Homo sapiens: one gene and its partner. The protein of the gene in region 1 interacts with the protein of each later gene in a pairwise test. Each region holds a gene or a part of one and is shown in the gene's direction. Other genes may lie near its edges.

Region 1 (7,025 bases):
TGGGCCACATTCCCTGGCTAGGCCCTGGGGTGCCCTTGTGAAGGAATCACCCCACAGTGCTGCAGGCCCCTTTACCTGCCTGCCCTGCCCGGGGAAAACGCCCCACCCTCTTTCCCCAGCCTCCCTCCTCCCAGGCCCTCCCTCCCACAGACTCCCATCCCTCACAGCCATGTGGTCCAAGGCCTGGGCTGGGGTGAGGGGGTGGAGGGAAGGTGGGTGGAGGTGGAGGGGTTGTGGTTCAGGTTAGGTTTAGGGAGCTCAGCCCAGCATTGGTGTTAAGGACTTGCTAGGCCACCTGAGGTGCTGGCATCTCAGAACTAGGAGAGGTTGTGGAGCCGACCTGGACAGACAGACAGTGGATGTCCCACGTCAAGGTGAAGCCGTCCTTTCTGGTGGCTCTTTCTGGGACGGGGCTGGCCCAGCCTCTGGGGATCCCCCGCTCCCCACCATCCGGATAATGCCTGCTACAGCCCCACAAGGCTGTGTCTTAAGTGGAGACGATGCAGGGCCCTGTCTAAGCTCTGGCTGGCGGACCCCAGGCCAGCCTGTCCTTATAAATAAAGTTTTCTGGAACTCAGCCACGCGCGTTTATTTATGTCCCGTCTGTGGCTGCTTTTGTGCGACAACAGCAGAGACTGTCTGGCCCTCAAAGCCAGGCATTTACTATCGCGCCCATTTCAGAAAAAGCTGATCTCCGGTCTCGCTGAGACAGGCGTTCTGTGTGTTCAGTTCTGGGTTTATTAGCCTGAGAGCTCCCTCCTCCTCCCTCCTCTGCCTCCCCCTCCTTCCCCGTCCCTCCCTGTCTCACCCCACTTCACCCTTTCAGAGCAACCCTCTGAGGTGTTACTCTCCTCGCCTCTTCCCCCCTCAACCTCCCTGTTATGGTCCCTCCTGGCATTTTCAATTACCTGCTAGAGGACCTCTCCCCGCCACCTGTCTCTCCCACCCTCCCCTCCCTCCCCCAGCCTCCTCCTCACTCTTCCCACCTGCTCCCACACGTGGAGAGAGGGTGAATCTTCCATGACAGACGAGATCCCGGGAGAAAGGTCCTCCCTGCTGCCACAGTTGAGCGGCAGGGGGGCTGTGGAGGGGCTACGCTGCAGGAAGCGTGACATGAACTAACTCTCTTAGAAAGTAATTCCTGCCCCGTCCTCCCAGGGAGCTGACCTCTGTGCCCACAGGACCCTGCAAAATTGAGAATATGGAGAGGTTCCTGGGCACCAAGCTGGAGGGGGTGTCCAGACAGATGGGAGGGTGGTACTCTGCACCCCCGCTCCATGCAGCTCTGACCTCGAGAGCCGCCTCAGCCCGCCCGGCCCCTCGAGAGCCGCCTCGGCCCTCCCAGCCTTCCTACAGCTCAGAAAATGCTCCAGTGGAGGTTGGGGAAGAGGGGAATTCAGGGAAGGCCACACCCGCACCACACCAGACCCAGCTCTCTCCCCCTTCCCTCCCGCAGCTTGAGGCGCAGGCCCCAAAGCCACAGGGTGTCCCTCTGCAGCGCCATGGAGGGAGTCCTAGAGGTTTCAGTGGCTCCCAGGAGAGGAGATGGAACTAAAAGCTTGAAAATGGGATTTTCCTGGGAGATCATGGATGTGAGGTCACAGTATTCACAGAACTCTCTGGAACCAGGGCGGCCCTCTAGGCTGCAGAGGGGACACCTCAGCTCTGTAATGGCTTTGCAGACACTGGACACAAGGAGTCCTGCCCTGCTCTGAAGAGATGACCGTGCCCCTGAGATCAGAACCCTCTGTCTATGGCTGGGCGCAGTGGTTCCCACCTGTAATCCCAGCACTTGGCAGGCCGAGGTGGGTGAATCACCTGAGGTCAGGAGTTCGAGACCAGCCTGGACAACATGGTGAAACCCGGCCTCTACTAAATAGAAAAAATTAGCTGGGCGTGGTGGTGGGCGCCTGTAATCCCAGCTACTTGAGAGGCATAGGCAGGAGAATCGCTTGAACCCAGGAAGCGGAGGTTGCAGTGAGACGAGATAGCGCCATTGCACTCCAGCCTGGGCAACAAGAGCAAAACTCCATCTCAAAAAAAAAAAAAGGAACCCTGTGTCTCACATCAGAAAGGGGAGGGCGAGAAGCATGACCTGGCCCCTGAGATAAGGGGGTCGGGGCACCAAGTGTTCCCGCATGGGAAGGTTCTGCCAGGACCAAACTTCCTGGAGACCTGGCCGCCCCGGGAACAGGGTCTCGTGGGGCCTCTTCCCAGCTGAGAGGGAGCTCTAGGCCAGCCCCACTGCAGAGCCTGGCCCTGGCTGGCCCCATACTGAAGGGGGAGGCCAGCCCTCTGAGGTCCCTGGATTTCCGTGTGTCTGGGAGCCTGCAGCCTCCCCTACCCCGGGTTCCTTTGGGTTCTCTTTGTCTCCTTTACTCGGGCACCCTAGTAACAAGCGACCCAGCGTGACTCTCTCCCGGCAGCCAAGGCTCCAACAGCCTCCCGCCCAGGCGCCCCCACAGGCTCCTTTAGTTCCATTTCTTCAACGGGAGCCTGCCTTGCCCCTGGCCTAGTTGATCCTAGGAGCCTGACCCCAAACCAGGCTGCCCTCCTTGGCCTCTCTGGTCCCTTCCAGAGGCCAAGGAGGTTCTTGATGGCAGAAAGAAACTTCTCTCTTGAACGAGGCTCAAATCTTCTGCTGCCTTATCCTTCTCCTTGAATAGAACTCTTCCTGGCCAGCACTTTGGGAGGCCAAGCCGGGTGGATCACCTGAGGTCAGGAGTTCAAGACCAGCCTGGCCAACATGGTGAAACCCCGTCTCTACTAAAAATACAAAAATTAGCCAGGCATGGTGGTGGGTGCCTGTAATCGTAGCTGAGGCAGGAGAATCACCTGAACCCAGGAGGTGGAGGTTGCAGTGAGCCGAGATCACGCCACTGCACTCCAGCCTGGGCGACAGAGCAAGACTGCGTCTCAAAAAAAAAAAGAATTCTTCCTGGGCTACCAGTGGAGAGGGATCGGGTAGATGATGCAGTGAGATCTCTCCCCCAACCCAGAGTCCCTGTTCTCCCTCCTGAAGGACCCAGGGGATGGTGAGGCCAGAGAGGGAACGAGGCATCCTAGCATCGGACTTTCCTCCCCAGATGTGCTGTTGAGACCCAGAGGGCGAAACCCTGGCTTCTAGTTGAAGGGTGTGGGCAGGAAAAAGGTGGTTGGTCATCTAAGAAATCCCGGGGGTCGGGGGATGAGCCCCCCTTGCTGTCTGAATCGAGGCCTTCCCTTGAGAAGAATGTAGCTGGCGGAGGAGGCTCCTGGTGCCTTTCGTGCCAAGCGCACACAGACCCCTGAGTTGAGCTGTCCAGCTGCACCAGAAGGCCCTTTTCTGCAGTGAATTGGTGGTGCGTCTGCTGGAGGTAGCTGTGCCAGAGACAGGGAGGAGGAGCTGGGATTGGCATCCTCAGCAGCCTCTGCTGCTACCTGGGGCTCCACTTCCCCTCTGAACCGCAAGGCAAGGGCCATGCACCTCCCTCTGTTTTGACCAAGCAAATGCCCACTGTCATGGCTGAGTCCTGGTTCTGTGGCACCATGGCCTTCCGCCCTGTGGAACCCTGATGAGGTATTTGGTGGGCATCAGCCATGTGTCTGTACCCAACACAGATGAGGGTGATGCCCATCCCCCAAGCCCACCTCTCCACACAGTCGGCCGCGTGGACAGACAGACCCTTTCCTTTGTGACAGCTAGCCAGGGAACGGGGGATTTCATTCTGCGCCAAGGCTCCAGCCTGCCCGTGTCAGGCATGACAGAGCCCAGGTGCAGGCTGCTGGGACATGCTGATGTGGTCGCCTTGCCCTCCGGGTTAACTTTCCCCTTCATCCCACAGTCCTGCTCACCGGTTGTTTGTCTTTCCGTCCATTAGGCAATACTGAACACTGCGCAGCTTGCAGAGGTCTCCTGGCAGCCCTCATTAGGAATTCTGTCTGGCCCCGATCAGAATACTGGAGACGAGACCACGAGATTGATGAGTTTGCCTTGGGAGTCGGTAAGAAGGTGAAGCCAGGGGCGAACATGGGTCAGAAGGTCACTGGAGGGATCAAGACTGTGGACATGAGGGACCCCACGTACAGGCCCCTGAAGCAGGAGCTCCAGGGTCTGGATTACTGCAAGCCCACCCGGCTGGATCTGCTACTGGACATGCCCCCTGTGTCCTATGATGTCCAGCTGCTGCATTCATGGAACAACAACGACCGATCGCTCAATGTCTTTGTGAAGGAGGACGACAAGCTCATCTTTCACCGGCATCCGGTGGCCCAGAGCACGGACGCTATCAGGGGCAAAGTCGGGTATACCCGTGGGCTGCACGTGTGGCAGATCACGTGGGCCATGAGACAGCGGGGCACACACGCCGTGGTGGGGGTGGCGACGGCAGACGCCCCCCTGCACTCTGTCGGGTACACAACCCTCGTGGGGAATAACCACGAGTCCTGGGGCTGGGACTTGGGGCGCAACCGGCTCTACCACGATGGCAAGAACCAGCCAAGCAAAACATACCCAGCCTTTCTGGAACCAGATGAGACATTCATTGTCCCTGACTCCTTCCTGGTAGCCCTGGACATGGACGACGGGACTCTGAGCTTCATTGTGGATGGACAGTACATGGGAGTGGCTTTTCGGGGACTCAAGGGCAAAAAACTGTATCCTGTAGTGAGTGCCGTCTGGGGCCACTGTGAGATCCGAATGCGCTACTTGAACGGACTCGATCGTAAGTGTCTCCTCTGCTGTCAGAGGCAATGCCCTCCCTCAGTCCCCATGGTCCTGGCTGGGCTCAGGCCAAAAGTTGATTCATTGGAACTAGAGTGTTTTGAAGACGATATTCCAGTGTATTCAGACCCTCAGAGGCAACTTTTGCATCGGGTTAAGTGAGGAATTCTACCCAGAGTCAGCTAGATTACCTAACGGTGCCTCATGAATGAATGGACAGATGGATGGATGATGGATGATGAATGAATAGATGGATGAATGATTGGTTGGATGGATGGATGATGAATAGATGGATAGATGAGTGAATAATGGATGGATGCGTGTATAATGAATTGATGGATGAATGTTTGGATTGATAGATAAGTGGTTGAACAAACAGATGGATGGATGTGGGTGGATGGGTGGGTAGGGGGTGGATGAGTGTTTAGATTGATGGATGGATGAGTGGATGAACAAGTGGATGGATGAATGAGTGGATGGATAAATGAACGGATGGATGGGTGGGTGGATGGATGGATGGATGGATGAGTGGATGGATGGATGGATGAGTGGATGGATGGATGGGTGGATGGATGGGTGGATGGATGGGTGGATGGATGAGTGGATGGATGGATGGGTGGATGGATCAGTGAATGAATGGATGGATGGATGGATGGATAAATGAACAGGTGGATGAGTGGGTAGATGGATGGATGGATGGATGAGTGGGTGGATGGATCAGTGAATGGATGGATGAGTGGATGGATAAGCAGATAGACTAATGAATTGATGGATAAATGGATAGATGGATGAATTAATAAGTAGGTGGTCTTTGTTTCTCTGGGTGACCTGCCTCCAGGTTTGATCCTCAGTTGACCAAATTCTAGCCCAGTTGCCAGCATATCATCGAGCTGGGGTTTGTAACCTTGGGGATACTAGGGCCTCTCCGGTAAATGAATGCTAGTGACCTCTCTCACTCATTAGACAGGCTTAGAGTCTTTCTCTTCTGCCAGAGGCTTCTGAGTGGGCTCTGAGATACAGTCCTGAGGGACTTCTTCAGTCATGAAGTTGGGGAGGAGCATGCAGATCAGAAACAGACTGAGTCAACAGCGAACTCCACCTGTCCCTTTGGGAAGGGGAGTGGCCTTTCTCAGACTGTGAATGCAGCCCATGTGTAGGGGCACCGTGCTGGTGTGGGAGGTGAAGGCTCCATGGCTGCCCAGCTGGGAGTCCGTGGTAGCAGGAGGGCCTGGCGTTGCAGAACGGCTCACCCCGTGTACGGCCCTCTCTCAGAGTTCCTTGCCTGCATGAGTCCCTTCTACCGCCTGCAAGTCCCACGTTGGGAAGCAAGTGGGCTGGAAAGCTCCATCCACCCATGGGTTGACTGTCCTTAAAGGGCAGGTTCAGCTCAGCACCCTGAGCTCTAACCCCACCCTGCAGGCCAGGCAAGAGGCAGAGGGGGGTGAGGCCCCCCACCAGAGGTCAGGAATACAGATGCTGACTCTGTCTTGAAGTCTCCAAGCCTGCAGCTTCTCCTCCTGGAGAAGGAGGTCCTCCTCCTGCTCCTCCTCCCCCACGTCAGCCTTTGAAAGATACTGGGGAAAGTGTCGGGGTGGTTAGGCATGCGCAAACGCTTACACATTTCTCTTTGGAAGCCTCCCCGCCCCTCTTTCTCTTGGTCCTCTGCTGTGACTTTGACTGTGATGGCAGTGAGTTGACAGCCACACACGATGTCTGTGGTACAGGCTCCCAGGGCTGCTTGGTCCTCGTCTGTGCAGCCTGGCGCCCCCAGGTCATGGGACTCCTGGAAGAGGTGGGTGACCAGGCCTGCAGCCAGCAGGTAGCCTCCCCGGGGAAGTCACCTCGGAAATGGAACCAGCAGAGTGAGTTCTGTGTCTGTCTCCCTAGGTGTCAGAAATGAGTGGCACCACGTCCACAGCCAAATTTGCCTCAAACTGGGATGGCTGCAGATTGGGAGCCCTGGGCATATCCTGCCTAGGACCTAGAATCTTGAGGAGCCCTGACCCTCAGCCCTGCCTCCCTCCTCCCAGCCATGGGGTGGTCACGGAGCCAGGGAGGTTAATGTCCATTCTTTGCAGACAGACAGATGAGGGGACTGCCAGACCTGCTCTTGTTGCCTGCCCACTGAGACTGTGGGGCCCCATGAAGATTTCCAGCCCTGTGCCCTCCAGGAACATGCCCCCTGATGCTGTCATGAGCTCTGGGTTTGCACAGCTTCACGGTTATGTATCATAGCTCCAGTACAGTACACAGACCCCTGGAGTGGCTGGGAGGGGACTGGAGCCTATTTGAACAGAGGGTTCCGCCCACCCAGTCCTGGAGG
Region 2 (7,090 bases), on another chromosome or scaffold:
GTTAAGAACAGTGTCATTGTTCCGACCTTATAGATGAAGTGTCTGAAATATCTTAAGATCAGGTCCGAGGGCTACAAGTTTATTTCTCAGCAACAGCCTCAGCATAGCAATTGATTCTGTATTGGTGAGTAATGAAGATGCCTATGATGTGTCTTCCTCAATAAAACTAAGAGCAAGGAACCAACTATGCAATATATTTGTCTTTCCAGGACCTATACTAATGCCTAGCACCTAGTAAGATGCCAAGTAACTATTTGTTCTTCTTGGCAGAACAACATTCACTGTTTCCTTTGCAAACAAACCCTGATTTTTGTAAAAGAACCTACCTCTACCTCTCAGGGAAGATGTGTCTATCCTTGATCTAAGGGAAACATCATAATCCAGCCTGCCTGCCAGGAATTGGTTTAGACTTCTGGAGGATCTTTGAGAATAGTTTCTTCATCTTGAAAGAAGAAACACTCTCTTTTTCCACTGGACACTGTCTATAACTGTAACTGCAATGTGTTATTATGCATACACATTATCTTGACTGCCTAGTTAAATAATCAGAGCTAAACAAAAATTTTCGAAGAAATTAACAGTAAATGGTTAATAGGCAACGCCTCTTGGGCTCGCTAGCAGACACAAAATAGCAAAATGGTTTAAACAAAAACAAACCGAAGGATAAGACCTCTATATACATTTGATAAAATAAATTAAAATGGGGAAAATATGATCTTGTGCCAATTAAAAACGTCAGTCTGGGGATAAAAATAACTGAAGATAGTAGGTCAGAAAGATAAGAAGAACAGGGTCTTTCTTTGATGATAGTATACAGTTGCTAAATTAACCCTGGGACTTCTTACCTTTAGACATTTTGTTACATAAGATAATAAGTGCCATTATTATTTAAGCCCAGTGAGTATGTGGTGTTTTGGGGGTGGGGAAGAGTGATGGTTATTTGCCGTTATTTGGAGCTGGAAACATGCTAACTGATAAATTATCCTTTTGGTTTATAGGACAATGTCCTTGATGCCCAAAAACATTTTCTAATTTTGACAGAAGAGAAAGGATGTCAGTAGGTGTTAACTAATGTGAAAAGAAGGTAGAATGGCTCATGTGTGTGATGGAGATGAGAACTGGGAATACAGAGAGATATCTGACCTGGTAGTAATTTTTTCTTGCATGACTACTACATTGATAAGCACTGTGCTAAAATTTTTCAATTAATTATTTCATGCAATCTTCAAACCAACTTTATGAAATATGTACTATTATTTTTCCTACTTAATAACAGAAAGTGAAGCTTAGCAAGATGAAGTGACTTGTCTAAAATCACTTACTCAAGCTAGTGTTTTTTGTTTGTTTGTTTTGTTTTGAGATGGAGTCTCACTCTGTCGCCCAGGTTGGAGTGCAGTGGCACGATCTCAGCTCACTGCAACCTCCGCCTCCTGGGTTCAAGCAATTCTCCTGCCTTGGCCTCCCGAGTAGCTGGGATTACAGGCACCCACCACCATGCCCGGCTAATTTTTTATTTTTAGTAGAGACAGGGTTTCACCATGTTGGTCAGGCTGGTCTCGAACTCCTGACCTCATGATCCACCTGCCTTGGCCTCCCAAAGTGCTGGGATTACAGGCGTGAGCCACCGTGCCTGGCCCCCAAGTGTTGTTACAAGGGTTTGAAACCAGATAGCGTGGATGTGTCGGGAGTCTATGCTAATGGTCACAAAGTTCATAGGCACCATAAAGTTCAAAGCAAACTAATTGCTAACAACCCCAGTTTTTCTGTTTGTTTTTGTTTGTTTGTTTGTGTTTTGAGACAGGGTCTTGCTCTGTCGTCCAGGCTGGAGTGCAGTGGCACAATCTCAGCTCACTGCAACCTCTGCTTCCTGGGCTCAAGCAGTCCTCCCACCTCAGCCTCCTGAGTAGCTCAGACCACAGGCGCATGCCTGGATAATTTTTGTATTTTTTGTAGAGAACAGGTTTCACCATGTTGCCCAGGCTGGTCTCGAACTCCTGGTCTCAAGCAATCTGTCCCCCTTGGCCTCCCAAAGTACTGGGATTACAGGTATGAACCACTGTGCCCAGCCCCAGTTATTCTTTACATTTAAGTCAAAAACGAAAACAAAAAATCACCCTTTCCCATGGATTCTCACAGAAAGATCACTACATAATATGAACAATATCCTCAGCAGACATCTTAAGCTGAAACTGTGTTGAGTTTTATCGGGATGCTTATTATTCAAAATGTCTCTTACTACAGAACTTGCTTTGACTGCATCCTCAGAGGCTGAAAATCTTTGACAGTTGAAAGAATGAAGGATGTGCCATCCCCAAATATGCCATATAATATATTGATTACTTTGAGTTGAAAACATTAGAGAAATTATAGTTTCAGAAAGGGTAAAACTGAGGGCTGACCTGATTAGGCCTGACACTTAATTTGCCTTGCTTGCTTTTGGTCACTTGCTTCTAGTCGATTTTAAAACCTGCATAGCTAAAAGTCATGTAGCTAGACGATACATAACTAAATTCCACTTGCCTCCTTATAGATAACTTCTCTGATAGGACACCATGGAAAATATTGCTTAAGTTATTTTTCAGGAACTTAGAGTCAGTTCTTGTCCAGTTCAAGCCACCAGCCCTTCATCTTGGCCTGCGTGAGTGTCCAATGGGTGACCTTTTGACATCAGAAGGCCCAAAACTCCACTCTCAGATCATGCTAACGTCACGATTTTGTGAACATGTGTTCTATGAACAGCCATGAAGATTGACTATGCTTGCTCAGATTACCGATTGCCTCACTTTTCCTTACCTCATCTTTCTCTGAACCTTGGACCACCTTCCTCCCCTATCCCATAAGCACTCCTAAAATTCCATCTTTGGAAAGGCACATTTGAGGCCTGTTCTCCAGTCTCCTGTCTTGGCTGCCTTGTGAATACACCCTTTCTCTACTGCAAAACTTGTGCGCCTCAGTGATTGGCATACTGTGTGAAAGACAAATGAGCCTGGTTCCCTGACAGGAGCTGAGCTGTCTCTTCCTGCATGCAGCCAGCAATAAAGATTCCTCTAGGAGAGGTATGTTCTCCACGCCAGAGCGAGAAAATAGCTCTCATCACCAGAGATTTGGAACTGGAGGTGGCATTTGGACTGGAGTAAACATTCTTGCAAAGTAACCATTATCTTCCACCTGTTTTACACCCCACCCCCCATATATCTCCTAGGGGCTCCCCTAGAAATTTTTTACCACCCTAGCCGGATTTTCTTTGTCCTGTCACTTCTTCTTAAATTTATCACTCTTTTTCTAAAAAGTATAAAAGCATCTTGCTTTGGACACTTTCTTCAGGATTCAGTCTCTTAACATCCCCATGTACATGTAAAATTAATAAAATTTGTATACTTTTCTCTTGTTAATCTGCCTAGTGTCAATTTGGCTTCTAGATGCAGCTGATTAGCTCACTAAGAGCTAGAGGGTGTAGGGGGTTGGAGGTGATCTCTGCCTCCCTTATTGGTGAACTTGATTTTTGTAAACACTCAAAAGTCACTTAGGCTAGAGTTGGAGATGGAGATGGTTATTCACTGGGAAGGCCACAAGAGAATGTTTTAAAGTGATGGAAATATTTCATATCTCGATTATGGTGTAAGGACATTTCATTATATATAAATTATATATCAATTTTTTAAAAAGCTCTCAGACCAAGGCTAGTCATTACAGCAAGAAAATAGGCATAGCAAATTTAAAACTTTGGAGAAATATATAGAATATTTGCATATGGTGATTCTGATTTGCTTTAAAAGTGACATGATTAATGTATTTAGACAAAAATACTCTTCGTTTTTCTTTGCTTTTATTTACGATCAGGATACAAGAATTCTACGCTGCTGCCAAATAAATGACTAGTTAAAATTAACTAACTGAATCCTTAACAACCATTCTAAGAGGCAGATATTATTATCCCACTTTATGCGTGAGGGCCCAGAACCCTGGCAAGGGCGGCACACTCAGTACGCTCTTCAAGCATCTGGGCACACCCGGTCCACTACAGTCCTACAAAGTCGGACGTGAGCACGGGCGAAGGCGTCAGCCGGGGCCACACGGGAGTCACTGACCACAGCCAGGCGAGAGCCGGCTTTCCGGTGCCGCCACATTCCGGGCACCAGGCTCCGGGCTCTTCAGAGCATTTGGGGCGGGCGACGGAGGTCCCGTCCACTCTCGCTTGGGTGCAGAAGGGCGCGGCGGTGCCAGGAAGCCGCCTTGGAGGCTCCAAGATTAGCTCACTCAGCGCGGCCAAGCGCAGGTGCGGGGGCCCTCGCCGCCACCCTGCTTATCTGGGGACAGTCCCGGAACCCGGTGACCCGGCTCCGCCCCAACCCGCGCCCTCGTCCACCCGCAGCAGCCAAGGCCTCTTCCCCGGCCCCGGGAGCCCGCGCCACGCCCGTCGCTCGCGCGTTCCAGTCCAGGCTACAGCAGGTATCGCGATCCCGGCCCTCGGCCCCGCGCTCCCCTCCCCCGCCCCTGGCGCTCTCCGAGTGTGGCCGACCATGAGGATTCCCAGTCTTGCAAATCGTGGGAGCGTGTCAACCGCCCCGTTTCTTTCCAAAGCCGGGCATGGCCCGGAAGCAGCTGATCAGATCTTAGTTCTGAATGTATAGTTCGGGTACGAGAATGTGACCCGTGAAAGTTCAGAGGAGTTAAGTAATTACAGCGTTCTGAAAGCGAACGTTAAAGGGAATTTACAACCGAAAAAAGATGCCGGTCTTCTTCCCCCATCCCAGCTTGCAATTCACAGAAGCACACATTAGGGTGGAGCCAGAAGGAATTACGGAAAGGACAATGAGGACATTGAGAGGGAGGGTATGGGGGGTTAAAGTTAGTCCTCCGAGGCCAAGAAGCAGAGTGTCTTGGCCTAGTGTCTGAAAATCGCAGCGCAGGACGGAACTTCCGAGAGCCTATACCTCCCCACTTCCCCCTCCAGTTTACAGATGGGCAAACCGCTGTCCCGGGTGTCTGTCAGGTCTAGTAGCCCAGAATCTCAGTGCCTAGGCTTCACTGTAAATAATAAACTATGTAAATAACATTTACAAATATCCTTTGTGAGCTCAGAAACTCAGCATTACCAGTAACTGGGTAGTGGAACGCATCCATCTTCGTCGTTTACTCCTTCTCCAGGGGCTCTCCAGCCTGCATTCCATGGCCAACAGCAGTGCAGCTGCAGAAGCACTTCTGGAAGCCTCCTGACTTGAACTAGACCTTGGGTAAATAGGGTTTAGATAAGTGGAGGGGAGGGAAAAGTTTCACCTGAGGGGAGAATGAGCTAGTCTGCCAGACCCTTATAAAAGTATTGGCCTGGATGGGATGGAGGGCTTTGACCTGAAAGCCACAGGGAGAAGGGAACCCTGAGGAATTGGCTGAAAGAGGGGGGTTCTTAGGAAATGCACCAACAGGGAAGCCAGCGCTTTACCAGGGATTTCATTCATGGTGGGTATATTATTAATAGAGATTCGAATTCTCTAGAAGCTGATCATTTCTAAGAGAAACAATATTTAAACATTACTGTCGAAGGAAAGGTTGTGGGGAGAAAATGTTCTAGTTCTAAAACAGAACACCCATTTTCCCTGGTTGTATATGAATAATACAAATATGTCAAAAATCAAGCTTACTATGTGCCAAGCACTCTAAGAACTTTTTTTTTTTTTTTTTTTTTGAGACAGAGTCTTGGTCTGTCGCCCAGGCTGGAGTGCAGTGGCACAATCTCGGCTCACTGCAACCTCTGCCTCCTGGGTTCAAGCGATTCTCCTGCCTCAGCCTCCTGAGTAGCTGGGACTACAGGCATGCACCACCATACCCGGCTAATTTTTGTATTTTTAGTAGAGATGGGGTTTCACCCTGTTGGCCAGGCTGGTCTCGATCTCCTGACCTCAGATGAGCCACCCACCTCGGCCTCCCAAAGTGCTGAGATTACAGGCGTGAGCCACCGCGTCCAGCCAACTTTATGAAATTTAATTTATTTATTCCTAACAACAAATCCAGGAGGTTGTTACTTTTTAAAATCAGTGCCATTTTATAAATGTGGAGGCTGAGGCACCAAGAGGTTGCCCAAGGTAAGAAGATCTGGACTGAGGCTGAGTGGTGTGATACCAAGCATCCTGGCTTGGCTGGAATCAGATTTGGGTTCCAGTACTTCCACTCCTCTTGTTTTGTGAATTTAGCTTATCTGAGCCTTCATTTTCTTATCTGTGAAATGCATACTGTAATCCCTCCCTATTAGTGAGACAATGAATGTGCAGGTGCTTTGTGAACTACACATTGTGACACTAATAGGAAGTGTAAAGCCTTGCACTTCTAAGGCCAAATCCCAGCTAAGAAGAGCAAATGATGAGCTGGGTTTGACTTGCAGAATTTAGTGGGCTTACTACTCACCAAGAGGCAAGAGATACAGTTGTAGTTATGATGATAGACTTTGGAGTCAGATGGACCTATGTTGGGATCCCAGCCCTGCCACTTATTGGCTCTGTGACCTGAGACAAGTCACTGAACATTTCTCAAACTGCATTATCTCCATGGTCCTCCATTTGTTCATACATAAAATGGGCTTTATATTCCTCATAGAGCAGTGATGAGGATTACATGAGATGCCACTGATACAATGTCTGCAAGTAGTGAGTGCTCAATAAAACATAGCTAGAGTCGTTGTTTTTTCTGATTCTTCTTGCTCCTCATCCTATTTCCTTTGTCTTAATTTCCCCACAAAGACACCCTCTCCAGAGCCCAGCAATTGTGAGGGACTGATGGAGAAGTATGTGGCTGCTATGGTGCTGAGTGCAGCTGGAGATGCCCTGGGGTACTACAATGGGAAGTGGGAGTTCCTCCAGGATGGGGAGAAGATACACCGGCAGTTGGCCCAGCTGGGCGGCTTGGATGCCCTAGACGTGGGAAGGTGGAGAGTTAGTGACGACACAGTGATGCACTTGGCCACAGCAGAAGCTCTTGTGGAAGCTGGGAAAGCCCCTAAGTTGACTCAACTGTATTACCTCCTTGCTAAGCATTACCAAGACTGCATGGAAGACATGGATGGGCGGGCACCAGGTGAGCACAGCCGGTGGGAGGTGCA

The links.
Region 2: the proteins of SPSB1 (region 1) and ADPRH interact in binary tests that used the Homo sapiens proteins (3 or more experiments, as listed by UniProt).

What each region holds. Positions count from the first base shown.
Region 1 is NC_000001.11:9,351,883-9,358,907, forward strand, and holds part of SPSB1 (SPRY domain-containing SOCS box protein 1), read left to right. Parts: intron 1-3,860; 5' UTR 3,861-4,009; coding exon 4,010-4,703; intron 4,704-7,025. UniProt on the Homo sapiens protein: Substrate recognition component of a SCF-like ECS (Elongin BC-CUL2/5-SOCS-box protein) E3 ubiquitin-protein ligase complex which mediates the ubiquitination and subsequent proteasomal degradation of target proteins.
Region 2 is NC_000003.12:119,575,403-119,582,492, forward strand, and holds the start of ADPRH (ADP-ribosylarginine hydrolase), read left to right. Parts: upstream 1-4,089; 5' UTR 4,090-4,449; exon of another isoform or gene 4,450-5,148; 5' UTR 5,149-5,234; intron 5,235-6,731; 5' UTR 6,732-6,767; coding exon 6,768-7,065; intron 7,066-7,090.